Regions from separate parts of the Homo sapiens genome. Here all the other regions are linked to region 1. Evidence: fine-mapped expression QTL. A gene starts in region 1. Each other region holds a variant in brackets. All regions are shown on one strand. Distances are from middle to middle.

The links.
Region 2: its variant is fine-mapped to the expression of PLXDC2 in whole blood (TOPMed, PIP 0.96).
Region 3: its variant is fine-mapped to the expression of PLXDC2 in whole blood (INTERVAL, PIP 0.90).
Region 4: its variant is fine-mapped to the expression of PLXDC2 in whole blood (INTERVAL, PIP above 0.99).

What each region holds. Positions count from the first base shown.
Region 1 is chr10:19,812,287-19,820,398 of GRCh38, reverse strand. PLXDC2 (plexin domain containing 2) reads right to left here and starts at 3,967. Exons shown (of 14, transcript NM_032812.9): 1 at 3,208-3,967. The coding sequence starts at 3,319. It overlaps LOC124902388 (a long non-coding RNA gene), which reads left to right and starts at 4,171. Exons shown (of 2, transcript XR_007062078.1): 1 at 4,171-5,997; 2 at 7,556-8,027. RefSeq lists an enhancer at 4,278-5,043.
Region 2 is chr10:19,458,113-19,466,224 of GRCh38, reverse strand. The region is part of intron 29 of MALRD1 (MAM and LDL receptor class A domain containing 1); the gene reads right to left. It overlaps LOC102724082 (a long non-coding RNA gene), which reads left to right and starts at 6,933. Exons shown (of 3, transcript XR_007062079.1): 1 at 6,933-7,014. The variant G/A (reference allele first, on the strand shown) is at 3,935.
Region 3 is chr10:19,485,103-19,493,214 of GRCh38, reverse strand. It overlaps MALRD1 (MAM and LDL receptor class A domain containing 1), which reads right to left. Exons shown (of 40, transcript NM_001142308.3): 30 at 1,570-1,698. It also overlaps the pseudogene HMGN1P20. Among named protein-coding and RNA genes, the nearest start is that of MALRD1-AS1, 240 kb to the left of the region's middle. The variant G/A (reference allele first, on the strand shown) is at 4,237.
Region 4 is chr10:20,109,979-20,118,090 of GRCh38, reverse strand. The region is part of intron 4 of PLXDC2 (plexin domain containing 2); the gene reads right to left. Among named protein-coding and RNA genes, the nearest start is that of PLXDC2, 300 kb to the right of the region's middle. The variant GT/T (reference allele first, on the strand shown) is at 4,860.

The sequences.
Region 1 (8,112 bases):
CGGCCTCCCAAAGTGCTGGGATTACAGGCGTGAGCCACCGCGCCCGGCCGGACACATATTTTCTACATACTCTGTGAGTATCTGATGCTTACAGTGAAGAAACCTGTCTGGAGCAAAATTATTATCTTTCATTATTAAGTTTTATTCAAATACATTCTCCCTGACAAGAGTTTATTTCTGAAGATCACACTGAAATGTGCAAATTCTCCTGATTATAATAATTCCAAACCTCTAGGCAGACATCCATGAACAACAACAACAAAAATTACCTTTGATATAAATGTTCTACACTACAATTATGTCTCAGTCCAAACTTACCCAACCTCAAGCTCCAAAACTTGTATCTGTTCTCTAAAGGAAAAAGAAACTCATATTTCATATTTTTAAAATTTTGCAGGTAGCCTCAAGTCATTGATTGATAAAATAATCAACCTGTCTTTTGTCCAACAATATGACAGATGTCCATTTTACAATAAATGTTCACTTGAATTAACCCCTCTATTATATCACTGTGCTCTAGGTTTATATGTAAACAGAAACTTTAGTGATTATGTCTCAACAGCAACACTCTCATAACAAACTCTACAAATGAGTAATATTTCAAAGTAAATTGTTTAACTCCAACAAAAGCAGGAAATAACAGAAAAATATTCAACCAGAGAAGAACAACTAAAATAAGTGTAAATTATATGATAAACATAAACTACTTCCCTCTAAAACAGAAAAGGGAATAATAGAGGAAATTAGCAGTTTATCTGCCCTCTGGTGGCAATGAAATCAACTGCAGCATTTACTAAAGTAACGCATAATAAAATGTCCCTGTTATGAAATCAGATGTTGTTCCTGTGCCAACATGTCTGTAATAAAGATCCTGATTGTTGCATGACAAACGTCAAGACTGCTGGACTTTTCCCCCCATACTGAATTTTTATATAGACTATTTTACAAATAAAGTTGTATACTTTTTTCTGTTTCACCTTGCTTTTTTTATATATTCAGTAAGCTAACCATTTAATTACAATATTTTTTTCATAAAACTACATGTAAATGATGTCCAGGAAAGAAGCTACTTCTGTTTATAAAAGTCTTCGAAAATTTGGCAAGGAATTTAAAACCATTCTTTTAAAAATCAATCCTATCAATATATGGGTTTCTAGAGTATATTTCCCATCAGAAATATTCAACTAGCTTAAAATACCAGTACACTGATGTTGAACATTTTAAGTATTTTATATTTCCCACAGCAAGGGCTTTTAATTATATGGCCAATCTTACTTTGGGATGAATTTCATCCTCAATTTCTGAACTTCTTGGCATAGCAAATGTGTGTGTATTGTGTGTGTGTGTGTGTGTGTGTGTGTGTGTGTATACATATATTCTTTTTTCAGTAACGTTACTGGAACAGGTTTATAAAAAGATAAACATTTGCTGGCATTTATTTTTTTTTCCTTTACTGCAAATGCATTATTTATTCCTAGTGCCAAAGAAGTTTTTAAATAAACAACTTGGGATGCACATTGGCACACACATCCTTTTAACCTCGTTTGTGGTGGAGTTAATTGTTTTTATTAAGCATCTATTCATACCGTGAATAAGTACATGAAAATTACTGTTGCAATTTTTAAATAACTGTGTCCTTTCCTGGAAGGCTAAAAGTGTTATTTTTTCGGACCAATGAAACGTATCAGAGAAATAAACAAAAGGCATAGTCTACTGTCATAAATCATACACAGTCAAGAACAACCTATGTCCATTAATGCAGAACAATTAAATGTGACAAAGACAAGTCAACACCCAAGAAATCTGCATTTTGTTCTCAGCTTTAAAAGTGTTGTCATCCTATTGCCTCCCTGCACATACACCCCAACACACACACCCCTTCAACCATAAATAAGAGCGCAGAGTCAGTATCTGTGCTTTATCTAGAACAGTTTACACCAGGGACAGGCGAAGTGTTGTGACTGTCTTCTAAGTCGCGGCTTGGTAAATTTCACTCAAGGGTTTCCTTCAAGATCTTCAAGATTCACCTTGCCTGGAATCCCCAGGTGTCCCCCAACCTTCCATCTGTGACTCTCTAGTTGACTGTTGAGGACGCATGCATACTTTCCGGGCAATCATTTAAATTACACACACACACACACACACACACACACACACACACACACACACACCAGAAAAGAACAAATTGACAAATTGATTATCCTAGGGAGAAAGTTTTCGTTTTCTTTTCTTTTCCCTCCAAGTTTTTTCTTTTTTCTTTTTCTCTCGTTTCACCTCCTCTCGAAGTCCACCCTAGTTCACCAATTTCTGCCAAGATCTCTTTCTGCCTGTGTCTTCACTTTCTTCACTGAAAGGCAGAAATGGGGAGTAGGCACCCAGTTCGCGGTGGGCAGGGTTCCAGGAGGCAGCTCCCGCTCGGCGATAGCCCCCGGGGCGCAACTCCCCGCAGGACGCGCACCTGCCAGGACAGCCACTAAGAGGATGCGGAGGTTGGGGGCCCTCTCGGGGACAAAATCAGGGCACTCCAAGGAACTCTCTGCGCGTTCAGGCCTGTCTGTGAAGCTGGCAGGCGGAGGACAATGGGAGCAGGGGTAGGTCTCCAGAGGCGAGCCCGCCTCCACCTTTCCCACCTGCTCCCCACCTCTGCGCCGGCCGCATTTACCCCGCCCCCCTTCCAGCGCCCGCTTGGCCCAGGTCACTAGACGGAGCTAGTGGGGATCGCCAGGGGAAGGAAGGTGCTGCCACAGGGAATTTTCTCGTGCAGAGGGGAGACCTGCAATCCCTGGCTTTCACAACGTCCCCCACCCACCCCATACCACACACGCTTAGTTTAACCAGCAGCGAGGAAGGAGGAGGAGCCGGAGAGCACACAGCCTGGAGATGCCAGGTCCTAGGAGATGTATCCACGGAAGAAGCTTTGCTCTCACACTGAAGCCCTCCCTGGGCTACTTTGGGGAGACAGTACCACCCCCTGCCGCCCAGGTGAAGTAAGCCCGAAAGCCTCAAGAAAACCCCTAGTCCCCGGCGTCCTTCTCTTGATAACCCTCTTTCCCCATTTGGGAAGCCTAAGTTTAGCCGAAAAGCAACTGCAATAAGTTTCCCAAGGGCAGATAGGTGATGTTGGGGGGAGAGGGTAGGGAGCACGAGAGTGCCAGAGAGGTCTTCAGCTGCGCACAAAATCAGCAAGCTAAAGTGCATCTTACTTACCAAGGATTTGGTCTCCGGGTTTCCCATCGGCGAACTGAAACTGGTCCGTGAAGAAGTGGCAAAGTAACATAACTCCTGCAGCGGCCAGGTCGGCCTTCGGGAACCTCGCCATGCCGCCGCCGCCACCTCCCTACCCCACCCGCCAGTCCTTCGCCGGTGCTCGGGGGCTCCCGATGCAATAGGCACGACCGGGCCAAACGCTGCGGATCGGTCTCGGTAGGACCCGGAGGCCTTTGTAAATGTCGCTGCGATTTCACAGTAGGGAACCGAGAAGAGGAAGAAGCGAACGCGAGTAGGAGCGCAGCGCTCTTCGGACCTCTGAGGCTCTCTTTGCAACTTGCCACACTCGCAGCCCTCACCCGACACTGAACAACAACCGCGGGGAGGAGAGGCCACTTGCAGCCGAGGCTCGCAAACTGTCGGTTCCACTCGGGCAGCGCCAACCCGGTGCCCGCGGACGGTGACTTCCGAGCCCCAGCGATGCGCTCCACTGGGTTCAAAACAGATCTAATTCCACAGCCAGCGCCGCTGCCTGCCCCAGATCCACTAGGGCTGGTCGGCTCTGCAGGAACTTTCCTCTGTCTAGGGATGGCCCCGGCAGGAGGTTTAGGTTTGCGGGAAGGAGGTTGATGACGAAACCCTCCCGACAAGTTTTGCTTCTTTTCTTCGCCCGACGCAGGGCGCGCGTCCTTTCTCGCAGCCGGAGGAATGGGCAGCTCCAAAGAGCTGAGCCCTGGGAAGGTTAGGGCTGCAGCAGTCTGAGGTCCGAAGCCAGGAAAAAAATGTGTTTAAAAAAAAAAAAAAAAAAGAGGAAGAAGAAAGGAAAAGGGTGGAGTGGGAGGGAGTCACGCTGGAACCTATCGGGAGAGGGTTCCTCCGGGCTCAGGAGGAGGTGGCCCCAAGCCCCCGCGGAGCCCCAGGAGTTTGGTGGCGGAGGAGGCGCTGCCGTCGCCACGCTCCCCCGCGCTCCTTCTCCACACTTTGAGGAGGGAAGGCAGCTCGCAATTTGCCAGATCTGCCGCCGCACCCTCCTCCCTCCTCCCTCCGCCCTCCCCTTCGCTCCTCCAGGCTTCTCCCACCTTCCTCCCTGAAACCGGCAGCCCGCACAGACCTGTCCAATGGCTGCACTTTCCTCGGGGCTGGCTGAGGAGTCGCGGCCAACAGATTAAGCCGGGGGAGCCTAGCGAAGGGGAGGGAGAGGGCCACTCCAGCCCCGTGCGCCCCAGGCAGCCGGCTGCCCCAGAGCGCGGGGAGAGGGGACAGGCCGGGGAGCTATCGGGGGAGCGCGGGGCGGTACCTCCGCGCCGCCGGGGCGCCATCCTCGCAGCCTGCTCGCACGCCCTGGGCAGCTCCGCCAACTGCGCCCCACACCCACCTGGCTCCCGGGCCGCCTTCGCGCCCGACTGCGGGGGGCGATCGCGCCCCGCCCCGACCCTGGCGGGGTCTCCCTGGGCACGAAAGGGTTAACCACAGCTCGCCCCTTCGCGGAGGCTGGTTCTGGTAGTGGCTAGGGAGTGGAGAAAGCAAACCAGAGCCGGTTCGGTTACCGACTCTGCGAAGCCCCCTCGACCCCAGCCCAGCGCGGGAGGGTGGCGGAAGGTGGTGCACCGCAGCGTGGTCCCCGCCGCTGCCGCCGCGGCTTTGCAAAGTGTCAGCGGGGGCGAAAGCGAGAGTTTAAAGGAACAGGAGGCCCATTGAATTTCCTACCGGAGCTTTCAGGGGCTCTGGCTCCCCAGTTTGTTTTTGTTTTTTCAGCTCGGGGATCTGTTTCCGCGTTAACCCTTGCCGGCCCTCTCGTTAGTTGATATCTTATTTTGCATACAGTTAATCATTTTTGAAAGGGATAAATACAAGGAAAAGAAGCAAAGCGCTATTGGTTAAAAGTACAGGATCTAGAGCCCGGACAGCCTGGGCTGGAATTTCACCTCCCCCGCAATGAGCAGTTTATCTCCTAGCCTCAGTTATCCATCCATCAAATGGAGAGAATTAGAGTAACGCCCTTATAAGGTGGTTGCAATGGATTGGATGAGTTAACTGTATATTTAATAAATATAGAACATTGCCTACCGCAAAGTACATGGCTTTGTTTAAGTGTTTACTGAAGCAAAAGTGAGAGAAGACGACTTCAATCACATAATAAATGTGCATGTGTTCTAAGTTCAAGGTCCTTTCCACTCCAAGCTCTGAAGAGTCTATGGATGCTGTCAATAGATGTCTCGGCTTGCCACAAAACCCACTGGAAGTGGATCCGGATAATCAATCTACCTTTGCAAATGTGATGCTCAAAGGACGGCTCTCTCATGGGAAACAAGAAAGGTTTCCCTTAATCCAATACTCAATTTGCTCTTTATTTCCAAACAACAGATATACACGTATAAACACAAACATATATCATGCCTATACTCTTTATTATGCCAGGACCCTGGCTCTTTCCTGAGCTTTCCTCCCATAGGTTGATTTCTACTTAGGTAACTGGGTTTTTCTATTTCTGCTTAACTAGGAGTGTTTAAGTTCTATGTAATATTACATCCGAATTTGAGTACCCGGATATATACCTGCTTAAAATCAAGTTTGAAAACTGAGTCTTCTCATCAAAACCTGATTGTGCGGTTGACCCTTGAACAACAGGGGTTTGAACTGCGAGGATCCGCTTTTGCATGGATTTTCTTCCTCCTCTGCCACCCCTAACAGAGCAAGACTAACCCCTCCTCTTCCTCCGCTTCAGCCCACTCAATGTGAAGACGATGAGGATGAAAGCCTTTCTGATGATCCACTTCCACTTAATAAACAGTAAGTATATTTATCTTCCTTATGATTTTCTTAACATTTTCTTTTCTCTAGCTTACTTTATTTTAAGAATACAGTATGTAATATGTAGAACATACCAAATATGTGTTAATCAACTGTTTTTATATTATCAGTAATGCTTCTAATCAACAGTAGGGTATTAGCAGTTAAGTTTATGAGGAGTCGAAATTATACATTAATTTTCTACTGTGTGGGGGTCCGTCCCCCTGACCCCCATACTGTTCAAGGGTCAACTATAGTTTAATTGATGCCGATTCTTTTTGAGGATCATAAATCCATGCGGAAAGCGTCCCAAAATATTCTGCACAACTCCAGCTCCCATCATATCTAAAATAATGGGGAATCCAGCGGAAACCATTTCAAGAAAGCACCTCTTTTTTCAGACCGAGTTATTTCTCCTTCTTTCACAGTAGAAAAATAGGTGTTTCCTCCTCTGAGAACAAGCAAATCTCCACCTCTCCTTGCTATCATTTTCTTTCTTTTTTCCTTTATTATTTTATGTGCGTATTCGCAGGGTTCATTTTTCTTGTTACTTGCGGTCATCAATGCTTTGACCACCTGATTGAAACTATATACTTTTTGTAAGTAGAAATTTGATGTCAAAATTTGAAAGGGGGTAAATGGTCATTCAGGGTCAGTCAGGAAGGACTTTTATATGTTTGGTTATGTCACTGATGCTGCTGAATTGTATTGGTTTACTCCTATCTTAATTTTATTCTGAAGAGCTATACACATAGTAAATGCGGAAGTAAGGGAGAAGATACAAGTAAGCAAAACTCAATCATGCTTGATGAGATTTGCTGTTCAGAAATAAAGAAGAAAGAGCAACATTGTATAACAATAAACTCAAGCTCTGATCATTTGCCTTAAATGTTGATGAATGATTATTTTTTTAAAGTATATTCTGCCTTTACACTGTAGCAAGGAACGAATAAATAAAATGTATGTAGGACAGTATGTTCAGAGTGAAATGGAAAAAGTAGATTACTCATAATTCTGGCTAAACTAGGGTATTTTGTGGCCTAAATTATTTGGGTTTGCCATACACATTTCACCACAGTAGAAGTGTCTCTTTCCATTTTGTAGTAACAAAGTAAGTATTTGTGGAAGATGTTACATCTTCCATCTGACATGAGGGAGAGACGTAGTAACGGCTGTTTGTATTCACTATAGACATAGGAAAGGAATTGGTGGTTCTTTCACCTACTCTTAATTTTAGCTAATCTCTCAAGGAACAAATGAATCAGGAACCACAAATGAATAGCACTTAGATTCTTTGTCCATGACAAAGATCTGGAATTCATACGACACTCTCTCCTTTAAAATAATATATCAGAATCATTCTCAACAACATAGAACTTTGGGCAAAGATTAGCATGTGAGCTATCACTGTGTGGATTTCAAACCTGTTTACAACCCTTATCTCTACCAATCTTCAGAGAGATTTTTACACACTCCAAGTGCAATACTATCTATAGAAATGTACTTACAATTAATCACCTCGTATCATCTCTGTCTTTAACAATGTTGTGTTTCCTAGGACCTGTCCAAAATTGGAACTTGGCTAACAGGATGCTGAAGAAAACAGCATGCTCACTTGGAAATGAGATTCTATACATGCTGTAGAATACTTGGCATTTATTATAATCTTTTCTTAACTATTCAGGAAATAGTTTTTGTCCATTTTAACAGGATTTGTTAAAACTTTCTACAATTGCTGTCAGATAAAGGGAAATTGCTATTAGTGAAATGCTTTTATTCAGTCCAAATATTATGACCTTTCCTCTAGGTCTCAGCATTTCCTCTCCCTCCTCATTTGGTAAGGCTAATTTTTTGACCTCTGGTATGCAATTACAAGACTCATTTGTTCGTCTTGGCTGATCTGCTCTCAGAATAAACTGTAATTCTATTGTACTGTTGATGGATATTCCAGCTTTTTGTTCTTTATAGTTTTAAGGTGAAAATTTTATCAATTATGTGTTTGAATTGAATAAACATCTTTTTAAAACTCACTTAACAGCTAACATAACTCTTTTTAACTGGAGCATTTAACATACAAGAATACTTTATGCCTTTTAGCCTCATATCAATACTACA
Region 2 (8,112 bases), 350 kb after region 1:
AATATAGTTAATGAAGACAGACCACTTCTGAATAAATACAAGAAAGCAAGCAGCTCAGTAGAAATTCTTGGCAAGAAAATAAATGGGTAATTCTCAAAAGAAGAAAAATAAATGTTTAATAATTAGCTCATGAATCTTTAAAAAACATTCAACCCCATTATTAATCATAGATGTAAATTAAAACAATCTACAATTTCATCTGCTTGATTAGGAAATTTTTCTATTTAAAAAACTGAAATTTCTTTTTAAAAAGTTTGGTGAGAATTTAAAGAAATTGACAAATTATTTCACCTAAATTGAAAAAGGAAAGGAACCTGATGGGAGTGGTGGGATTATAAGAAAGGTTTAGGTTTTTGAATTACAGAGACAGGGAAAGATATCCACAGACTCTGGAGAGGCCAAGCATGGTGGCTCAGTTATCGCAGCACTTTGGGAGGCCAAAGCAGGTAGATTGCTTGAGCTCAGGAGTTTGAGACTAGCATGGGCAGCATGGCTAAATCCTGTCTGTATTAAAAATACAAAAAATTAGCTGGATGTGCTGGCACATGCACCTGTGGTCATGGCTACTTGAGAGGCTGAGGTGGGAGGATTGCTGGAGCCTGTGAAGTTTAGGCTGCAGTGAGCTGTGATCGTGCTATTATACTTCAGCCTGGGTGACAGAGTGAGACTATGACTCAAAAAAAATTTTTTAAAAAGACTCCAGAGAATCAAACAACAAGCAACCTCAACAGAGAGTATGTGAAGAAACAGCCCTAAGAACATGGGGTTAGGTGAAAATTTACATTTGATACAAATTCTTAACTGACAATATATGTTAAAGTCATACTTTTACATATGTTTAAGCTCAGAAATTACCTTATAAAAAACCGTTTATGACAAACTGACAACCAACAGAATACTGAAAGGGGAAAAGTTGAAAGCATTCCCTTTGAGAACCGTAACAAGACAAGGATGCCCACTCTCACCACTTCTATTCAACAGAGTACTGGAAGCCCTAGCTAGAGCATTCAGACAAGAGAAAGAAATAAAGGGCATTTAAATTGGTAAGGAGGAAGTCAAACTGTCACTGTTTGCTGATGATATGATCATATACCTAGAGAACCCTAAAGACTCCTCCAAAAAGCTCCTAAAACTGATAAATTCAGCAAAGTTTCCGGCTACAAAATTAATATACATAATTCAGTAGCCCTGCTATACAACAACAGTGACAAAGCTGAGAATCAAATCAAGAACTCAACCACTTTTACAAGAGCTGCAAAAAAAAAAAAAAAAAAAATTGGAATTATACCTAACCAAGGAGGTGAAAGACCTCTACAAGGAAAACTATAAAACACTGCTGAAAGCAATTACAGGCAACACAAACAAATGGAAACACGTCCCATGTTCGGGGATGGGTAGAATCAATATTGTGAAAATGACCATCCTGCCAAAAGCAATCTACAAATTCAATGTAGTTCCCATGAAAATACCACCATCATTTTCACAGAACTAGAGAAAACAATCCTAAAATTCATATGGAACAGAAAAGAGCCCACATAGCCAAAGCAAGACTAACCAAAAAGAACAAATCTGAAGGCATCACATTACTTGACTTCAAACTTTACTATATGGCCATAGTCACCAAAACAGCATGGTAGTGGTATAAAAATAGGAACATAGACCAATGGAACAGAATAGAGAACCAATAAATAAACCCCAAATACTTACAGCCAACTGATCTTTGACAAAGCAAGCAAAAACATAAATTAGAGAAAGGACACCCTATTCAAAAAATGGTGCTGGGATAATTGGCAAGCCACATGTAGGAGAATGCAACTGGGTCCTCATCTCTCACCTTATACAAAAATCAACTCAAGATGGATCAAGGACTTAAATCTAAGACCTGAAGCTATAAAAATTCTAGAAGGTAACATCGGAAAAACCCTTCTAGCCATTGGCTTAGGCAAAGACTTCACGACCAAGAACCCAAAAGCAAATGCAACAAAAACAAAGATAAACAGGTGGGACTAAATTAAAGAGCTGCTGCATAGCAAAAGGAACAGTGAGCAGAGTAAACAGACAACCTACAGAATGGGAGAAAAATCTTCACAATATATACCTCTGACAAAGGACTAATATCCAGAATCTACAATGAACTCAAATAAACTAGCAAGAAAAAAGCAATCCCATCAAAAAGTAGGCTAAGGACATAAACAGACAATTGTCCAAAGAAGATATACAAATGGTCAACAAACATATGAAAAAATGTTCAACATCACTAATGATCAGGGAAATGAAAATCAAAACCACAATGTGATACCACCTTACTACTGCAAGAATGGCCATAATCAAAAAATCAAAAAATAATAGATGTTGGTGCGGATGTGGCACAAAGGGAACACTTTTACACTGCTGGTGGGAATGTAAACTAGTACAACCACTATGGAAAACAGTGTGAATAGTCCTTAAAGAACCAAGAGTAGAAATACCATTTGATCCAGCAATCCCACTACTGGGTATCTACCCAGAGGAAAAGAAGTAATTATACGAAAAAAGATACTTGCACACGCATGTTTATAGCAGCACAGTTGACAGTTTCAAAAATATGTAACCAAATGCCCACCAGTCAATGAGTAGATAAAGAAAGAGTATATACACACACACACACACACACACACACACACACACACACTACTCAGCCACGAAAGGGAACGAATTAGTGGCATTTGGCATTTGCAGCAACCTGGATGGAACTAGAGACTGTTATTCTAAGTAAACTAACTTGGGAATGGAAACCAAACATCCTATGCTCTTACTCGTAAGTGGGAGCTAAGCTATGAGGATGCAGAGGATGCAGAGGATGCATTGTATCATAAGAATGATACAATGGACTTTGAGGACTCGGGAAAGGGTGGGAGGTGGAAGAGAGATGAGGGATTAAAAAACTACAAATTGGGTTCACTGTGTACTGTTCACGTGATGGGTGCACCAAAATCTCTCAAATCACCACTAAAGAACGTACTCATGTAACCAAACACCACCTATTCCCCGAAAACCTATGGAAATAATAAATAAAATTAAAATTAAATTTAAAAATAAAAGAAATTACCTTATAAGAAATTGTGGTAGGCTATTGGTTCTCTATACAAATATATATTCCCTTCCTCTTTCCTAGTAATACAACTTAGTTTTGAATAAACACATTTCGTAGATTTCCTTATGATTTAACCACGCAACTAAATTTTGGTTAATTCATTGTAAGTATAATTAATACACAAAAGCTTCAAGAAAACAATTTTAAAAGACACCAGGTATGTGTCCTTCCTTTGCCTCTTTCCCTGCCTTATTTTTTCTTGCCAGCCAGATGAAAGCTATAATAACCAGAGCTAAAGCAAACTCTTGAATTATCATTCCTCTCACAATATTTCAGGCAGCCCCCTCTCCGTCTCCACTCTCACTGTACTGCTCTAGTGCAGTTCATTACTTTTTATCCTCACTATTGGACTAGCCATCTATTAGAATAATCAACTTATCTGTGTAATATCCTTCTATACTTGCTAGTAGGAGGTACTGTATTAATATTTATTGAATGCAAAATATCATGTTCTAAGAATAGATTTTCAATGAGCTTATAGTGGATTTGTGTTTTCATTTAGGTTTTAGTAATATTTAGGCATGGTGAGGCCCACAGATCAGGAAATGACTGCCATGGAAAAGATAGGTTTTTATACTCACAGAACCTGAGTGAAGGGAGAACACTTCACTGTAGGGAGGCTGCACAGGCAAACACTCGGATTGATCCGGAGGCAGAAGGAGATGCAAAATTGTGGGCAAGCGCCTTTATTGCAGTTTCTATGAGAAGCAGATTTACAATTGGCTAGTTTGAATAATTTCAGTAAACTCGGGGGCATGGTGGCTCTTCCTAGTCTCTGGTAATTAAACCTAGGATGATTAG[G/A]GCAGGTAGATAGTGGCTCTGAGTGTGACGGCTTCATAAAGGAAGTAGGTGGAGATGTGGGCTCTAGAGTGGTTGGTTTGCATTTGAAAAATGCACTCAAGAGGAAGTGCTTTACTATTGCTAGGAAGCATCAGAATACAGAAAATAAGACATAGTGAATATGATTTGTATACCCAGCTCCCCTATTCTGGTGACACTCCTTCATCAATAAGGTCACCAAGGTGGAGTTCCAGTAGGCATGTTTGTCTAATGTATCCTGCCGTCTCTCTACAATAACTAGTCTGAGGGTGACCATTTGACCCAAGATAGGTCAGAGAATTTAGAAATAAAACTAAAGGATGCCTGCAACAATGTGTCCAGGCTCGTGTATTCCCCGGAGTCATGTTTTCTTTATGTACGGTAAAGTAGAGATGGACGTTCCACAGAAAGGGAAATTAAATAGATGAGCTGAAACACACAGTTTCTGTCACCCAGGTTGGGGTGCAGTGGTGAGATCATGACTCACTGCAGCCTCAACCTCCCAGGCTCAAGTGATCTTCTTGCCTCGGCTTTCTAAGTAGCTGGGACCACAGGTGTACACCACCACACCAGCCAATTTTTAAAATTTTTTGTAGAGATGGGGTCTCACTATGTTGCCCAAGCTGAACTTCTGAGCTCAAGTGATCTTCCTGCCTCAGCCTCCCCCCACAGTGTAGGATTACAGATGTGAGCCACTGCCCCTACCCCCTCTCACTTTTTAATCTTTGATTTCCATATCTTCCTGACGTTGTACCATATTCTTGATTGATGTGATTCCTTGTACCTTTACATGAACTCCTTTTACGTTTGACAGTGTTGGCAGTTAGAGTAAATCTAGTTAACATAGAGATTTCCAAGAAATTATCATTAGAATGTACAAAGACTAAAAGACCAAAAAGTAACCTAGTGGAAAAAACTCCAAGCACACTTGGTTTCTTTCTCTGAACTCCTTCCTGACCTTTTAATCAACGATTTTAAACTCTTCATTTCCCAGTTCCTCTGAGACAACTTTCCAGACAATTTGTGTGAGTCATTTGACTCAAATCCTTCAAGAATCCATTCCATACTAAACATTCTTATTCCCCTCTTAAATGAGATTGTGTATATGCTGGGTCTAGTATGATCTTGTCGCCCATTGATTTTTCAATATCTATTCATTTCCTTCCATTGTCTTGATTGTCACTTATTCAATGCATGCTTCTGTAAAACAATTAAACAAGTAGGCATGTATGCAACGGATCAGTGGAGGAATTAGGTTACTATAACCAGAAGTTGTTTTGATTGGTCCATGATTTTGACCACTACAATAATTCTTGTAGCACCAACATACAGCAGATGAAACCAAAGAGTACTTGCACAGCTGAGCTCAGCAAGTCATACAGGAATTCCCGGACTGCGCAGAGTGTGCTTCAACCAACGTTTTCAGATGAGTTATCCATGTGCTTTCTTTTGAAAGTGCTTCTTTATTGCCTAGTTCTCCTGGTCTTCGGGTAATTTGCTCTTGCCTTCAAAATTCAACAGCCTTAAACATTTTATACTATGTTTACCTCAAGGGTCCTTGCCTCCCATCCACCCCCACTGTTTTAGGTAGAGTCATACATTTACTCAAAAGTTCCTCTATTTACTAGGAATTCAGATACTTTAAACTGTACTAGCAGCTTGAATATGATTGCTAGTGTTTATATTAGTGCTGGGTAACTAGATTACCTATGATTTCAGTGGCTTGCTCCAATACTATTTTTCCAAAGGCTTTCTTCTTTTCATATTATTCAAAACATGAGGTTTTTCAGAAACTTATATGTTACAGTAAAAAAAAAAAAATCTGTGTGTGCGTATGTGCATTTGTGTGTGCGTTCCATTAAGTGGAATAGACAAGAAAATTGGTTTCTAGTCCTGGCTTAATATTTGTGCATGTATAAATATCTGTAGATTTGGTTGTTAACTGTTTCTTTATGTTTGGCTCAACTAGATGTAATTTTCATGTGTTCCACATCTACTCAAGTTCAACTGTAGCTTATACATCTTATATACTAGTATATATCTGTACCGATATTTCAGGACTAAATGACATATACTTCAATTATGTAGTGGAAAAATTATATATGAGTATAAAGTAGGAGCCTTCTTGATAAACATCAATATTCATTTTGAGTGAAAATAAGTAAAATATAGTTCAGTAAAAATGGAAACACCATATCATCACAAAAACTCTATGCAATGGTCCTACTGACCTAGATCCTAAATATGAAAATTTTCATTGTCATTGAAACAAATTCTAATTAGAAATTACATGAACTGAGGATAATGTTAACATTCAGATTTACAGTTGCCTCTATTTGAACCTAGGGATATTTCAAGGGCTATTTAAGCCTTACTAAAATGTCTGGTCAAATAATTATTTTTTCTTAATAATGTAAATGAACCAAGTTATATCATTGTGCTTGGATTATAATTAAATATAATTATATTAATAGTAATATTTATCATTATAATATGATTTAAATTACATTTTTAAATATAGACCTTTTTAACATTCAGATGCTAATTCTCTTAATTTTATTGAGAGATAAAGCAGTATTTGATGATTTCAAGGTACGTAACAAATGGTTTACTTGAATACAATGTTAAAGTAATTAGATTCATCCATGGCTTTGACTTTTTTAATTTAAAATCACTGATTAAAAGTATAATAAACTCAATCACATAGTTCTTTTGTTTAAAGAATGGCCTTGGACCAGAAAAAAAGAACTAGTCCCTGATTTTATAAGAAACAAGTAATTGGGCTCTAAGGCTTAATGAAGAACAATGCAGTTAGTTGATCATGGCAATGAAGTCTCTCTTCTGAAGCCTGTCTCAAATCAATTCAAGCAATAAAAGAAAGTTAGATTTATAACTGGCAATGACTGAATGTAGAGGGTTGATGTCACAAAGACTATCTCCACCTCTTCGTTAAGAATTTTGTTTAGTGTCAACTTTATTCACTGAGGGTACTTCCTCAAAAGGCTGAACCCAGGAATGCTGGGAGCTTTTGGTTAACACCTTTAGACTATTAGAATCTGAAGGTAAGTATACTTCTCTCTTACATCTTCAGGTTGAATAAACCTGCAAAGGATTGATAGCTTGGTTGTGATTTCTTTTTGTTTATTAATTAAGCAACCATAATCCTGAGACTGTGACCTTAAATACAGCAAATGTATTTGCTTCCAAGGTAGAGAAACTGGAAAACTCAATGTTAAATAATGTCTCTTTATGTAATATTGCATTGTGTGTTAGGTAGTAGATTGCACTGTGTGTTAGGATGGGCTTGATGATATACTTTTAAAATACCACTTAAATCTTAAAAAATACTATATATATACGCACATATATATATATATATAACTCAACTATACATATCTAAAAAACAAGTTGGCTAAGAGATTCTCATCTACAGATTCAGGAAGATGAGGCAGATGTAGATATACTATCTGGGATATAAGGCCCCTTTTAACATGCAAGGGAGACCTGATGAGACTTACTTTTGAATTCAAAATAAATCTGTAACGATGAAAATTGTACACTACATTTTAAATATTTCAACTGGAAATGACACATGCTACTTCCTCACAGCACATTGGCCAATTCTGATTCTTATTGACCCGTTTAACTAAAAGGGAAACATGCGGGAAAGAAACTGATGTCATTCAAAGAGTAAATATCTCTACCACATGCGGTGATACATTTTCAAAAAGACAGCATCTGTTTATAAATCAATGACAAAGATGTCACCATTCTTACCTTTTGATAATCAAAATTCTTCAATCAATAAAAACCAGTTACCTTTCACTGAAAAGTCAAAATTAATCTTTGTATCCATATATGATATATAGTTAGTAAAATATCAATTTATGTATGGACATGTTATTAATATTGATAAGTAAGTTGGAAGAGAACATATAATCAGGAGATAAACTAATTATAACAAGCTATTTTTAAACATGACTTTGACACTTTTTGTTAATCAATATTTGCAGGGATTTAGTTACTTCAAATAAGCCTATTTTGTCATTTGAGAAGCATTGCGTACTTCATCCTGCCAATAAGTAAAGTTTCATTTAAAGTGCAGGCTTAAATGTATGGATTCTTCTATAAAGAGTATATTTAACAAATTATATCAAGTG
Region 3 (8,112 bases), 330 kb after region 1:
TTTATAGAGATGGAGAGGAGAAGGGTGGTTACCATGGTCTAGGGGAAGGGGTAAATGGAGTGTTATTCTTTAATTAATACGGTTTTGTTTTTCTTGGATGAAAATAGTTCTAGAGGTGGATGGTGGCAGTGGTTGCACAACAATACAAATGTACTTAATGCCATTAAATTATACATTTTAAATGGTTGAAATGGTAAATTTTTTATTATGTGTTTTTTACCACAGCTTTTTAAAGTTTAAAAATATATTAAAAATTTTAAATAGAAAATGAGCCCATTGGAAGCATCAGTATAAGATCCTAAGAAATAAAAAATTAAATTGAGCTATACAATAAAAATGTAAATATGCTTGTGTGGTAGTTTGTCTCCAAAAAGGTCACCCTACAACCTTCTCTACATTTGATGTATTTTCCCATTGAAAGTCTAGTCTAGACTTTGTTTTCTCATTGAAAGTCTAGTCTAGACTTTGTTATTTGCTTGGCCATTAGCAGGAATCAGGTATGGTATTATGCAACATCTGAGGCTAAATCAAAGTAACTGTTGCTATTTTTCCTGAGGATCGGGGGACACTTTCTAGTAGAAGCCAGCCCTGTGTACAATGGCTTACCACCCTGTGGCTACCATGTTATGTAAAGCCCAAGCCACATGGAGTACTCTGGAGGATGAGACACCATCTCTAGTAAGACAGAGAGACCAAAGAGTATCAAGAGAAGAAGTCATCTTGGATGTGATTATCTAGTTCCACCCTATCAGTTCGACTCAGGCCATCAGAGACAAACTGCCCAGAAGAGCCCTTCCTGAATTACTGACCCAAAAAATTGTGAGCAAAATGTAACAGTGGCCTAGACCACTAACTTCTGGGGTAGCTTGTTAGGCAGCAAATGGTAACTGCAACAGGTAGCTGGTATGGTATCAATATTCTCTAGGAAAGATAAGATAAATGGAAAAAATATCCTTTTTTTCCAGTACAATATATGGAAAAAAGATCCTTTGAATTTAAATATCTGCTCATATTTTAAAATTATATACTTAGTTTTATATATGTTTTTAAACATTGCTTGAATTAAAGCTTGAATAAAAATACAATGGAGCCCAACCAGTCCTCTTTCTCCAGTGCAATGTAATTGATAAAATTAATTACTAAACTGGTATTTATTAAAAGTGATCATTTTCAGCTGCATATACAAAATCAACAATTTTTTGGAAAAAAAAATAGAAAAAAAAAAACAACCAATAAAGAAAGGCAGATTGCTACTGCAGTTCCTAGAAACTTTAATTCTAACCCTACACACAGTGTGCCTAATTACAGAATGGGATTATTTTTTGGTAAAATGATTTTCTATAGACTTGTTACTGTTCTCAGTATGGGGTAAAGAATATGAAAGTACTGTCATTTGTATTTGTATTTGATACTTGTATACAAATTTGGGGAAATATTTGGGCTATTCTAAATCTACTCTAGTGCATGAAAATAATATTTCTTCTCCATCATCAACACCAATATCTAACTCTACTTATGAAGGAAAATATCTGCTGAACTGGCTGCCATACAGCAGATAGATAAACTTACCACAGTGAGCTTCATCAGACCTATCAGAGCAGTCTGGCTTATAGTCACAAAGAAGGTGGGATGCAATGCACTTCTTGTCCCGGCACAAAAAATCAGTGATTTCCGGACAAAGCTCAGAGATCTCTCCCACTAGGGAAAAACAAAAAAACAAAAGCAGTATTCCATCAATATTTTCATTAGACTTGAAGATTCCTGTTAGGTATTTTATAGATTTCACACTAGTAAGCAAGTTAAGGATTTCAACAGTTGCCTAAGATGGACTTCCCCAACTTCCTCTTTCTCAGTCCCACCTTCAATGGTTCAGCAAGTTATATAGACTCTACTTCTGAAATATCTTTTATGCACTTTGATGGTGCTGAAAATCTCCTTGCCTGTGATTCTCATGGATGAGACACTCAAATTTGTGGCCCACAACTACCTGGAACCTGGTAAAGGGTATGTGCAGCCTGCCACCAAATCCTGCTCATTGTCAGCATGCACTGATGAGATTTCCTGGCCATTTGTGCTGCTCGTAATGCTCCTGGTGATCTGAGTCTATAGCAAAGACACTAATTTTAATGATATGTTCCTGTCTTGACTGAAAATTTTACATAAAGAAGATGTTAACTTTATTGGTTAAAGCAACTGTCTATTTCTGCTGAATTTTCACATAAACATACTGGCTGGTGGAGGTTTCATACTCTAAATTTTATTTTGCTTTTCCTGACTCCCATGGGGCAAAATTTTCCTTTTTTATACACATAATTAAAGTGTCCATTGACAAGTACAGAGAACTAACACTATTTTATGCAAATTTTTTGTAGATGAAAAAGTATGGACAGTGTTTAATACTCATCCTCGTATAAAAAAATAGTCAAGCCAGCAGACATTGTCAGAAAATTAATTGGCAGCAGACTTCAGGAAATGAATGTGTGTTTTTTTCTAAAACTAAATAGCATGTATTGTGTCTTTTGCGTGATGATCTGAATTTAATTTGATATCACAGTCTAATTTTTATTCATAAGCCAATTTTTCTGCACTGAGCAGAGTCCTGCTACCTCAGTTAGTGTTGTTTTGGTTTGCCATTTCCCCCACCCACCTCAGCCTCCCTTCACCGTACCCCCACTCTACCCTCACCCCCATAACCCTGCCCCCCCCCCGCCCCACTTGGCTTCTTCTGTTTACATCAGTTTTAAACAGAGGTATGACTGTTTACATCAGTTTTAACGAGAGGTATGCCTGTACTCGCTTGTGCAGAAAACATTGTTCCAGATTTAATCGACCGGGTTTATGTCCCTTCACATGGTTTTTAAGATTATTTAAATGTCTAATGTATTTTATTGTAACAGACATTGTGTTGCCAACATTGCCTATTTCAGTGGCACATCACAACCTAATTTAGATAGAAAAATCAAACATTTTAAATGGACAAAGGAAAAAAAGATAAAAAGATATTTTTTCTTTCATAACTGACATTGTATTGGTTGAGGATCAGTACAGACATTTCAATATGTACACAATTCCTAAGACATGTACCAAAAATCTAAAAACCTATATATTGTAATTCTTTTTTAAAGTGATTCCAGTGACTTTCCAGCTTAAAATTTGGAAGCAAATTTTCCTTAAGAGGCTATCAAGTACCAGTATCTTCACATGTTGATAAGCTGTTACCTACATCCCACCAATTCACAACTGAATAGCATGTATGCTACATATGCAAATTTTTGACCTTTCACAGCACAGTAACAAAGTTATTAGGAAAATAGGACTATCACAACCAAAGAGGCTACACAGTGCCCACAATTCTGACAGCAGAGCCACGATCAAGGAGTAGTTTTCTTTAGGAAACAATTCTACTACAAAACAACATGGGAATAGAAGTAATTTAAAATGCTAAAGACGTTAGATGCAAGATTGTGACTCCATATTGCCATTGAATATGCTTTGTATTATAGGATATAAAAACTAACCCCCACCGATGCAATGTTAAGCTGACAACCAAGACAGTGAAAGCATCCCATAATTCAATATCCCACACTATTCTCTGGTTGTACCAAAAAATAAACAACCAGCGAATGATTTCACCTCTTAAAAAAAAGCATTTACACTTAAAAAATAGGATGAGATGGGATTCCCTCCTTCTTAAAAATGTTTCTGGAGCTGCTACTAAACAACTTGCATTTACAAAATGGTTGATAAAAATATTCCCCTGGATTGTACAAGAAGGGAGACAGGGACCACTGATAAGACATGGTACATAGTATTAATCAGACTTGGCTACTTTCTCTCCTGCTTCATCAGAGGCTGGACTCTCCTCAGTTTTCCTTTCCCCGTTTTCTGCAGTTAACTCTTCTTTACTTTCGTGGTTAGCCACTTAGGCCTGTTTTCCCTTTGCTCTCCTTTTCCCTTTTGTTTGTGCTTTTTTGTCTTAAGATGTATCCTTCGCTGCTGCCTTTTTCGGCTTCGCCTGCACTTTTGCAGGAGCAGGTTTACCTGACAACAGCGCTGACCTCCTGTTAGGCTTTTCCTGTGGCGGCCCCTTCAGCAGAGCTGACCTTCCTCTTGGGCATTCTGGCTCCGGAAAGGCGCGTGCGCGGTGCCTGGCGCTGCCGCCCCTCCACCCTCCGAGCTGCTGAGACCCCTGGCGGGGGATGGTGGGAGAACCGGATAGAACCGGATTGGGAGCCC[G/A]CCTTCTCCTCCGCCCCCGCTAAATTTTTTCAGTACACGGGATCTTAATAACCCATGTAATAACCCAAACTACTTCTTAGAAAATGCAAAGTATTCTTAACAAAAATCCTAACTCTGCAGGAAGGTCATTCATGACATTTGACTTCTTTGCATGGCCACACACCTTTCCATCGTTGTACAGGTGGGGACCGAGGCTGATCATTACCTAGTACATAAATCCAAACCCCCTAATAAAGACATTAAAAATCCTTTGTCCTTGGTTCCAGCTTAGTTTTCCAGTCTCATTTTCTGTGACTCTCAAGTACCTGCAATTGTTCTATATCCTATGACTGAAGGTTTCACAAATCTGTCCCTTGCTCTTCGTTTTTTCATGCATTCACAGATGCTACTTCCTGTCTGCCCTGACTATTCCCTCCAGAGCCCCAGGTGCCCGCTGCCCAAACTTATGATTCAATGAAATGACTTCTCTCTCTCTACTTTTGTCTTGCCTTTCTCACTGCCATCTTTGCCCCAGGTGAGACACTTCTGTTTCATGCCACCTAAGTACCCTTTTATTCCTATACTACAATGAGTATCATCACATATAAGAGCTATTTATACATGGCTGGCTGTCCCCCCAGACTCCAAGCTCCTTAGAACCAGAAGTTCTTATCGTGTTCTCTTGGGCCTCACATAGAACCTGATATATAGTTGGCTCTTTATAAACCTTGGTTATCATAATTTCAGAAACAATGTTTTCATCTAAAGGGGGCTTAGAAAAGTGAATTGACATAGAATTTTTAGAGCAATTCTTATATTTAAATATTATTTCATCAGATATGTAGTCAAATGACAATACTTCACAGATTCATAGTGACTTATATTAAAGGTTTACAATTTTTTTTATCAACTTCAACAAATTAAATAAAATTCAGCAGTTCCTTTGTTACATAGGTGATTATAGGTTCAGAGGTGATGTACCCGAGGTGGAGGTAATTTACTGACAATTAGGCAGTACTTCCACAAATAAAAAGAACACAACTCTACAGACTTGACTAAAAGTGCATATCCAGAGTCTTTGGATTATGCCCATAATACAATAGCTAAAACCTGTATGATATCCAAAAATAATTTACCAGTAAAATTTGGTATATACAAATATGAAGACTGAAGAAAGAACATCTAAGACAACAGCAAATGGTCCAATTATGGGCATTAACAAGACAAAGACTTAAAGGTCATATTTACCAAGTAGTTTAGGAACTTTGCCACAAAATTTTAATTAACACTAGCGAGAATTTACAGTTAACCCTAGGGCAGTATGTGGACATTTTTTCCATATGCAAGTCTATGCATTTGAGATTATTTTATTTTTCCATGCCATAGGATGTAAAGCCATATAATTACTCCACAGGGGAAATGTGCTTTGATGTCACTCTAAATAGTTGGTTCTTTGGCTTTTATAAAAAAAAAAAAAAAAAAGTTAAAATAGGCTACATCTCTAAATAAGGGTTATTTTCTTTCAAAATATAGAATAGCAAAGCCATGAAGAGAAATAAAGTGATGCTCTGAACTGCAGTAAACTGAACAATGACTAGAATATCTATGAAATATTAGGTGTCCAAAGAAAAATAAACAAATAAAAAACAGCCTCACGTATATTTTTTAAGAATACAGCAAATTGAAAAGATAGATTTTTTTAATGAAAGACTGTTTTGCATGTGTTTAGCCATTTTATATTTTTTATTCAGCCAAAATGGTAATGATAAAGGCAAAAACTATTCACCTGGTTGTCAAATACATGAAATGAAAGATATCTCACATATTCTATATTTGATGATAAAAGAATGGATGGAACATTGGTGCTCACAATAAAAGTTGAAAATAACCTGGCCAGCAGATTATGGCATATGAAAAAACTAGAATATTTATTTTGCTAGTAAAAGACTGACAAACAGAGATGTAAAGACCTAACTAAAGCATGAGAAACTGAAAGATCCTATGAAGGCCGTGGAAAATAATGCAGCCATAAGAAAAGAAAATTTAATCCAGTAAGAACATAAGGTTTATATAGGACTAATCTACTGTAGATTTAAACAAACTCTCACCAACATGAAAGTGACATCAATTGAAAACTAGTTTCATTTTACTTTGAAACAGAGCTTACAAATCCTCGATCCTATAAATTTCAATTTGGATTAAAATCGTTTTGTACACAGAGTTCATTACACTGAACCAGATATAATCATTATATAGATAATATTTATGAAGAAACACTTGTTGTTTTATTACTTTCTTAAGCTGATGACATTCAATATGCTCTGAGATTCCAGACGGCAAGTTTCATATGGACATGCATTTCTAAGTACCTTTGTTTTTCATGTAACCACATGAAGAATATTAAAACGGGCGTAATCCCTGCTTTTGAAGACCATGGTATTTAGTTGACAAAACCACATATTCAGCTTTGGAATCAACTGAAAAGAAACAATTAGGGTTTCTAAGGCTGCTATATATGTATGGAAGACCTAGTGAAATTCCAAGTACAAGAGAACTTTCCCATGGAATACAGTGAGTCAGGAAACATATCTAAGAAAAGTCCTAAGCAAGTAAACATCTAGATGCATTGAAGGCATGAAAGGAGCTTAGACCACAACAAAGAATTTTAACTATCAAAGACTCAAAGATGTTCATGAGTGAGCAGGAGTTAAAAAAAACTGATCAGACTTACAAAGGTATGTTGGTCTGTGAAGTATTGGAGAAACTACGTCTTTTGGTTCTGAAAATGCAGATTGACATTTGATTTAATGTGATAAGTAAATGGAAACCTCTGAGCTTTTAAAACATATTTTATTATAGTAAGAGTTTAAATACATAATAATGTAGAAAAAAACAATCTCTCCTTCTTTACACAATGTCTTTAACATTTTGTCGCATTTTTCTTTTTAAATTTTTTTGTAACTAGGTTAAATACTTGTAATCATAACATATACACAATATTTTCTCTACCTTTATATTTATCATATCATAAATATTTTGTCTGATTTTCACAGTAATCACTAATATCTATAAAATATAATGAAAACTGAATATACCCCTAATTTAGTTAATAATTCCATTATTATTCATCATAGAGTTGTTTCAGTATTTTACATTTAAACAAAACTATGTTTAGCTTCTTCATAATTGGAAGTAGTTATGTAAGACAGACTCCTAACATGCCATTATTGGGTATAAAAATGTATCGATGGATTTGTCTCTTTTAGGGCTTTTGATATCTATCAATAAAATTAATTGCTTTTTTAAAAAGCTACACTGATCTATTTTATTATTATTACTATTTTTTTTTTTTTAATTGAGACGGAGTCTTGCTCTGTCGCCCAGGCTGGAGTGCAGTGGCGCGATCTGGGCTCACTGCAAGGTCCGCCTCCTTGGTTCATGCCATTCTCCTGCCTCAGCCTCCCCAGTAGCTGGGACTACAGGTGCCCGCCACCACGCCCGGCTAATTTTTTGTATTTTTAGTAGAGACGGGGTTTCACCCTATTAGCCAGAATGGTCTCGATCTCCTGACCTTGTGATCTGCCTGCCTTGGCCTCCCAAAGTGCTGGGATTACAGGCGTGAGCCACCGTGCCCGGCCTTCTTTATTATTTTAAAAATATTTTTAATTTTCATAAGTTTAGGGGTGGAAATGGTTTTGGTTATATGATGAATTGTACAGCGATAAAGTCTAGGCTTTTACTGCAACTATAATACAAATAGAGTACATACATTACACTCATCAGATAGTTTTTCATCCCTCGAACTACTCTCTCAGCCTCCCTCTTTCTGAGTTTCCAATGTTCTTTATGCCACTCTGTATGCCACTCCATATATCCATAGCTTAGCTCCAACTTTTA
Region 4 (8,112 bases), 300 kb before region 1:
CATGTATATACAGACATATATAGACACATATGTATACATGTAGCTACATATATAGAGACGGAGACAGAAAGAGATGGCATGTTAAAGTACATTGATTTTATACATCAATACAAAACACATATCGAGTATCTTTAAATCTGAACTGCAGTAAAATCCAGGAAGCATCCAGCTTACTTAGTCTAAAAGCATTTCAGCCGTGGTCTTTTTCATTTTGTTGACCCAGATACACATACCTTTCAATATCTTGGTTAATTTCATCTTGACTGAGATTTTCAAAAATGCATTTATTTTCACAGACATAATGTGTTCCTCATAAAATTCATCAACTCTATTTTAGGAAGCACTGCAATTACTGAGAACAGGGAGAGACTGAAAGAAGCCCTAAGTCCTTCTAGCCATATCCATGACTCACTTTTTTGAAAATTCCATCCTATTCTTACTGCTGGGCAATACATAGTTGAATTTTCATAAATATATGGGATTTTTTCAGGAGTCAACTCTGATTCATCGGTCAACTTGTTTATCCCTGTGTGGATGGCTCCATGTTTCCTTGTTATGTCTTTAGACCTGGCGAATCAAGAGTCCATCAACTGTCTGCCTTGAATGTGTGAAAATCACTGTTCCTTTGTTCTCTCATATAAATTTTGTCAGTATACATGTGCACTCACACACACGCATGCACACACAAACACATAAGATAATCATATTATATTTTGACTGAAATTGCATTGGAGTTATAAGTCGGTTTGAGAGGAATTCATTTCTTTTAATTTTGAATTCCCCAATCCATGAACATGGTATTTGTCATTATTTATTTATGTACTCTTGGAAATCTTTTAATTTTTTATGACATTTTTCACAACATCCTTCACATAATCTTTATATGTCTTTTGATTTATTTAGCTCTTTTGAAGCTACTGTTATTGAAAACTTTATGTTCAATTATATTTTCTGACTGTGTATTCAGAAACACAACTGACTTTATATATTGATTTTATATTCTACAATCTCGCTCAACTGCTGAACTATTTTTTTTTTTCATTTTTAAGGGATTTAGTATGTGATAATTATATTGTCTGAAAATGAGAATATATTTTTTCTTCCAGTCTTTAAATATTTTATTTATTTTTTCATTTTTATTCATTGTGCATTATTTTAACACAGAAACAATAAACTCTTCCTTTAAAATAGATACCTAAATGATAAATAACAATCTGTAGAATTTACTTGCAATTAGGCAATAAGCAAAATACAAGTCAGAGACCTAAAACAACTATCAAAAAAATTTTTGTAAGACTGAATAAAATATTTTGTAGAACATTTAGAAGGGATGTCATTGCTTACAAACAACAATTCTGACTTCAAATTTCTCCTTTCTATGTCTTCTTACTTCTAGTGACATCATACACACTTTGGAGAGAAACAGGTACATTTCTTTCAAGCCACCAATCTGTAGGTATCCAAATACCTTACTTCTAATGTTACTTCATTAAATAACTTATTTTTCCATTCCCTTAACAACCTTTTTACTTCTATTAAACCTTAACATCTGATTATCCAACCAAAGTAAAGCATTAAGAAGTGCTCTCAAAAAAAAAATGGCTTATTAACTTCTCGATTTACTGTGACTTTGCCCAGAGCAGATTACTGATAACAGGGAGAAATGGGTATATGGAAAAAAAAGGCAGGCAATAGAACCAGAACTGTGGGACAACCCGAGAACAGATAAGTAATAACAACACTACATCTCCTCTTAGTTTAACTGGTGCAACCAAGAGAAAAAGACCTTCCAAGTGCAGCTTCAATATTTTACTGTTTTCCGGGGGGGAAAAAGAATCTTAGGGTTATTTTTCCCATAGCACCTTTACATTTACATCTACAGAAAGGCTTGGGGGCAAAGCTATGATCTCCTTAGGTTGAAAAGAGGCACTTCTGAAAGGGGACTGCAGGAAGGCATGCAAGGTCTTTTGTGATTGATAACCTGGTTTCCTAACATGCAGCTTTTGTAGAGGAGCAGCGTGAATCCACATCTCAAACACACTTTTGTGTAACTGGTTCAGACCAATCAGAACTGAAGGATGACTTTTTAAAAATTCCACTTTCTATCTGCTAAAGAAGAGAATAAAAAGGGTCATCGTGCTGCGAGGAATTCTTTCCATGGACATTTATCTGCAGCTCCCGTTTAATGTGTGAGTGCACCAGTCAAGATGGCTGAAGGTAGGATTTATCCCGGATAACCTGACCTGACCATGACAGTGCACCTTGTCTAAGTGCTCAAAGCTTCACGAAACTGGGGCAAGCCTATATTAGAGAAGACACTCAATCGTACTAAAATAATACTTTTTAAAATTATTTAAATAAAATGTAATAGTATTTTAACCTTTTCACAAATTTTAGATATGGGAAGTATGGGGGAGGCGTAGACAAAATGTTCTAGAGTTCATTGTCTAATCTTCAACACTGTGCATTTCTTACATTGCCATTGTCAAAAACTCTACCCGGGTAAGTATGACTATTAATTCTCTCCTGCCTATTTAAATCCTCTCTCAGGAAAGATATAATGGGTTTTTATGTACTAACATGTGAAGGGTATATATTTATTACATAATCACCCTTAGGACTATTTACACATTATTGAGAAAGATGACCCTCGTTAAGCTAAAAAAGTGATCTCTACTGTTGTTACCAAATAGGGGCTGAAACAGCTCCAGTGTGTGGCTACTTATTTCTGGCCTTAGATAAGGGGTCAGCTTAGGTGCCCCACACTCAGCCCAGACCATCTCGCAAAAGGAAGAGGACAAGCTGACATGAGTCAAGGTTGCAAATACCTCTCAAGTGGCCTTTGCTATCCTTTATAAGCTTTGCAATGCTGAAGGTTTCTAAAGACTTGACATGAACACTCCTCCTGGGTGTGCCGGTGACAGGTGAAAGAGTAACGTGCTGGCCCTCTGGTTTATGGCAACACGACTACTATCCAATGTCTACAAAAATGACAAATCCCCAATGTCATCAGAATCTAGCCATTCAGGAAACAACTGTATTTGAAGAGAAAGTGGTAAAAAAAAATTGCATTGCGGATTTATTTATCTCCTCATTGGTTGGATGAGCTAGCTTTTAAGGATAGACGGGTCAGTTTACTCATCTTTGTATTCAGTGCTTTACTTGGCACAATACATAAGTCATACATTGGGTTTCAAGTGTGAATTGCTGAATTTTCAAACACAGCAGCTTGCCATGTAAAGCCCTCCCTGGTCTGGTCACTGCCTGGCTCTTCAACTTTACCTCTCACCACCCCTCCAGATGTATCCTGTGCTCCAGATACTCACAGTTCTCTCCAGGTACCATGGGTTTATGCATTTTCACAGGCTGCTGTTTCTGCCTGAAATATACTTTCCTGCTTCTGTGCCCTGAAAAATCCTATTCATCTTTTAAGCTTCTCCTCGTCTGTGAAGACTTCTTTCATTCTCCACAAACCCAGAAGGCCTGATTACACCCTTTGTGGTCCACACCTGTGCTCATTCAGACGTCTGTTACAGGTCTTCTCACACTGAGTTAAAATTGTTTGTTTTCACATCCATTCCTAGGTCTATTCCCCTCTCTCACCACCTCTTACAGACCCCAGAGGACAGGGACCATAACATTTTCATGTTTGTATTTCAACACAGCGTCTGACATTGATCCGTGTACTCACTGGATTTACAAGTAATCATTGACTGCTTAGTATGTTTAAAGTATTGTGCTGGGCATTAGGGCTAAAGTAGAGAGAAAAGCCTTCTCCGGACTTCACAGAGAACGGTGCATGATGTGGCCAGAGAGCAACAGGCTGAGGTCAGATGGTGGAAGGCTATGCCAGCCCACAGCAAAAGTTTGGGGATGTTTTTCAAAGGCAATGGCCAAACACTGAAGAGTTCAACAAAGACTTGACCAGATTTGCCTAATTGTTTTCTGTTTTATTTTATTTTGTTTTGACATGGGGTCTCACTCTGTCACTCAGGCTGTAGTGCAGTGGCACAATCTCGGCTCACTGCAACCTCCACCTCCCAGGTTCTAGCAATCCCCCTGCCTCAGCCTCCTGAGTAGCTGAGATTACAGGCACCTGCCATCATGCCTAACTAATTTTTATATTTTTAGTAGACAGGGTTTCACCATGTTGGTCAGGTTGATCTCTAACTCCTGACCTTCAGTGATCCACCCACCTCAGCCTCCCAAAGTGCTGGGGTTACATGCATGAGACACCACACCCAGCCACATTTGCTTAATTGGAAGAGCATTCTGATAAGCACCACATTAAGGAGAATGTTTTCTTCCAAAGAAGAATGGAGGAAAAAATTGAGAAGGGTACATGGCAAAATCAACTGTGTCTGTTTTTTTATTTTTCCCCTTCAAACTAGGGAATGGGTACACTAGTGTTTTCCACATTATCTATTGTTTATGCAGCTGAAGTGGTTCAAAAAAATTTTTTTTTAAATAGTAAGTTCATTCAGCCAGAATGTGTAGAAAATGAGTAAGGAGGGGTTCACTGTTGAAATGAGAGAATAATTCGCTGTCTATCTCAGGAACCCATGGAAGGATGGAATTGGCTGCAATTAGGAGTGGAGTGGGCAGAAGTAGACACATTAGAGAGTTTTTCAAAAGTAGAACCAACGTCCTGATGGCTTATTGGATAAAGGGCGAAAGGGCTGAGGAAGGCGTTCAATGGAAGATGATGGTACCAGTTACTACAGCAAGGAAATTGGAAGAAAAAAGCTAAATTTGGGTTTGAAGGCTTGTTTAGAGTAAAAGTTAACCCAATCTTGGCAAGCAAGCTAGCTAGCAAGCTAAGAAAGCTAACCCAATTTCTGTAACCCATACAGTGTAAG[GT/T]ATTACAATAAAAAGAGTCATTTGGTGGTTTTCCATCACTGAACATCTACCTGTTGAGGCAGTTGTCTTTGCATTAAGCCGTTGCACTTTGAAGTGAAAAGTCTGGAGATCTGGGAAAAGAATCCGATTCCTCTGATCAGTATTCTCCATTGCAAAGCCTACAGATGGGAGGGACTACCTGCTAAACTAACCATGAAACTGAATTTGCATCTCTGTACCTGATAAGATGAAGATGCATGAACACACACTGGCAAACTACTCTTCCATGAAATAAAAAGATATCACTTCAAGGGTCATTTTATTTCATTTTGACTTATTTTTCCATAGTCTAAAGAAAACCTTAAGCAATGAGCTTATTTGATAAAAGCATTAATTTTCCTGTTGGCAATGTGTTTGTCTATAATATTAGTACTTCACAAGTATTGTATAAAGAGCTACAGCACATATATTCCACGGTAAAAATTTTCTTTCCAACTTTCATGTGGTCTTATCTTTCGAATAAACTAAGGTAGCCTAAGTATTAACATAATGTTAAATTAAGGCAAAGTGAGAAAATTTCTATACTTAAAAATCTATAAAGCAGAACTCTCTAAGTGTTATAAATCCACCGTGATAGAAGTGTGTTCTGAGGGTTCCCAACTTAATACAGATGAACAAATATGACAGCTTAACAAATTAAAAAGGTCACTAAATATGCCCATGGGATACTGTCTCACTGAAGCAGGGGATGATGGAGAGGAGGACATCGAGTCAGAGCTCAAGGGAGAATTCTTTATTTCAGGAAAACAGTGATCAAGTCTGTACATTCAGGAAGAGGAGAAATTTGAAATCCAAAATGAGGCTAATGTCAGAGTGAATACTAATTGGAAAGTAGAACCTTTTTTTTTTTTTTCATTTTCCTATGTGAACAATTTAAGTTCAGTAACTGAAAAACTTTGTGAGTGACTTTCAAATATAATTCAATTGCTATCTTGGTCTTTTCAGACTACCATAACTAAATATCATAGACTGGATGGCTTAAACAACAGAAATTTATTCTCTTACAATTCTGGAGGCTGGAAGTCAGAAATCAGGGAGCCAGCATGGTCAGGTTCTGGGGAGGGCTCTCTTCCTGACTTGCAGACGGACCTTCTTGCAGAGGACACAGACCTTCTTGCTGTGTCCTCACATGGTATATGCAGATGGAGAGACAATGACTCTTTGTAAGAGGGCATTAATGACTCTTCATAAGAGAGCATTAATCCCACCATGAGTCTCCCCCTCAATAAATTCGTATAACCCTAATTACCTCTCCAAAGTCTCATCTTCAAATATGGTCACATTGGGAAAGGGGTTTCAGCATATGAATTTGGGAAGAATGCAGACATTTAGTTAAAAAACTGTTAATCAAAATATTGCCAGTGTTAGAAATTACTTGAAGTATACGTTAGGATCTGTGAACTTTCTGGATGTTAGAAGAATCTCAAAATACTTGTCCTCTGGGAGAATGAACTTTCTTACAAGAAGGAGTAACCGTGAGACTCGCATCTTGGGATTTCATGCAAAGTTTACAAAATATATTTGGTCATCCTTAACTAGTTTGAAAATGAAGTAAACATGTCTTTCCTGCAATGATTACAGTGTGATTCTTTTTACACTGTTTATTGAGAAAACAAACATTTCAGTTTGACATTTTTGTTTTATCTTTTGAACTAAACTAAACCAAATGTTAGTATATGTATGTGTATAATTTACTTAGAGAACACCTATGGTCCAAGGAAAATGTATTTTTTTCTGAATCACAAGATAATTATTTTCAGAAATCCAAATTTAAAAAGTGTCCTTATCTGTAAAATGATAAAATATTGTAATATTAGTTGCTGGTGTGTGTAAAATAAATACTTCTGTTTTTAAAGTAAATAGAGTCATTGAATCATTAACAAATGGCATGAGGGATTTACCATCAAGGTTAAAATTAATAAGCTGATGTGAAAGTACTAGAAAATGATACGAGACATGTTAAGGCACTTTAGAAGGTATTCCATTGTGAGTACAATGGTTTGCAAGTCTATCACCCACACAAAACTGAACATTCCTCTAGAGCAGGGGACGTATCTGTCATCATAACCCCATCTGCCTAGTGTTCTGTGCAGCCCACCATGGTTCTCCATAAATGCTGGCTGATTTCTGTTGTATAACTAGGCAGGAGAGAAAGTAAAGACACTATTTTTGTTTGGTAGAATTATGTGGGTACCCTGGTCAGGGGGTGAGCATAGACAAGGGAGCCCAATAGGTGTCAGAGGTGACTGGAGTAGTACAAGTGTGAGGTGACATGGAACTTGGCTGTTGGCAGAGAGAATGGAAAGGGAGGGATGGCTCAAACAGAGTCTGTGTGGGGAATAAAAGAGCAAGGCCGATCAAAAACAAAACGAAACAAAGATAATTGTAACATGCAGAGATCCTGAAAAACTGGGAGAAAAATAGAAAGATTGATGAACTAGAGAGCAAGGGTTAGGAGAGGAGATGCTGATTCCCCAATCCTGAGGTCCTCCAAGGTCAGCTGCCGGGAGGAACAGTGTGGGGGCACAAGGAGGGGCTGACTGTGACAGTGACCGGCGTTCAGAGCCGAGCCAGGGGGCAGGCTGCTGAGACCAGTCTTGGTGATGCCTGAGAGTGGGAGGGAGCCAGAGAAGGCAGGAATATGCCAGGAAAGATGGCATTACAGAAATCAATGAAGGTGATTTCCAAAAAAAGGGGATTCCACAGTATAAATACTACCATTGAGGCAAATAAATAAGGAGACAATTTCTGATCAAGCCATTCCCTGTTATTACTTGTGAGAAAGATTGCGGGAGAGACAACAAATTTATGGTGAAAGGGGAGGATAAGTGTTAAGTGGTACTGTCTGTCATTCACTGCCCTCCTTGACCCAGCACTAATTAATCTATCCTGTCTTCTCTCCAGGATAGGCAAGGGCAGGCCTTCTATTCTTCATTCTTTTTCTCCAATTCCTTCCTGCATGCTCTCATCTCTGCTTCCCTTTTCTGGAGAGCACCCCTCCTTGCATAACACCACCTGCCAAAAATCTCACCTTCTCTCCAGCTTTGTCTTCTTCCTGAGCAGTCTCCATCCCTGCCAGGCAGATGTCTTGTGTTCCCTTGAACTTTCCTGTCACTTTTCATCTTTTTTTCTGGTATGTGGAATATTTTGGATGCCTACATATATATTTTTTGTGTGTTGACTTGTTTCCTTTGCTAGACATATGCCTTCTGA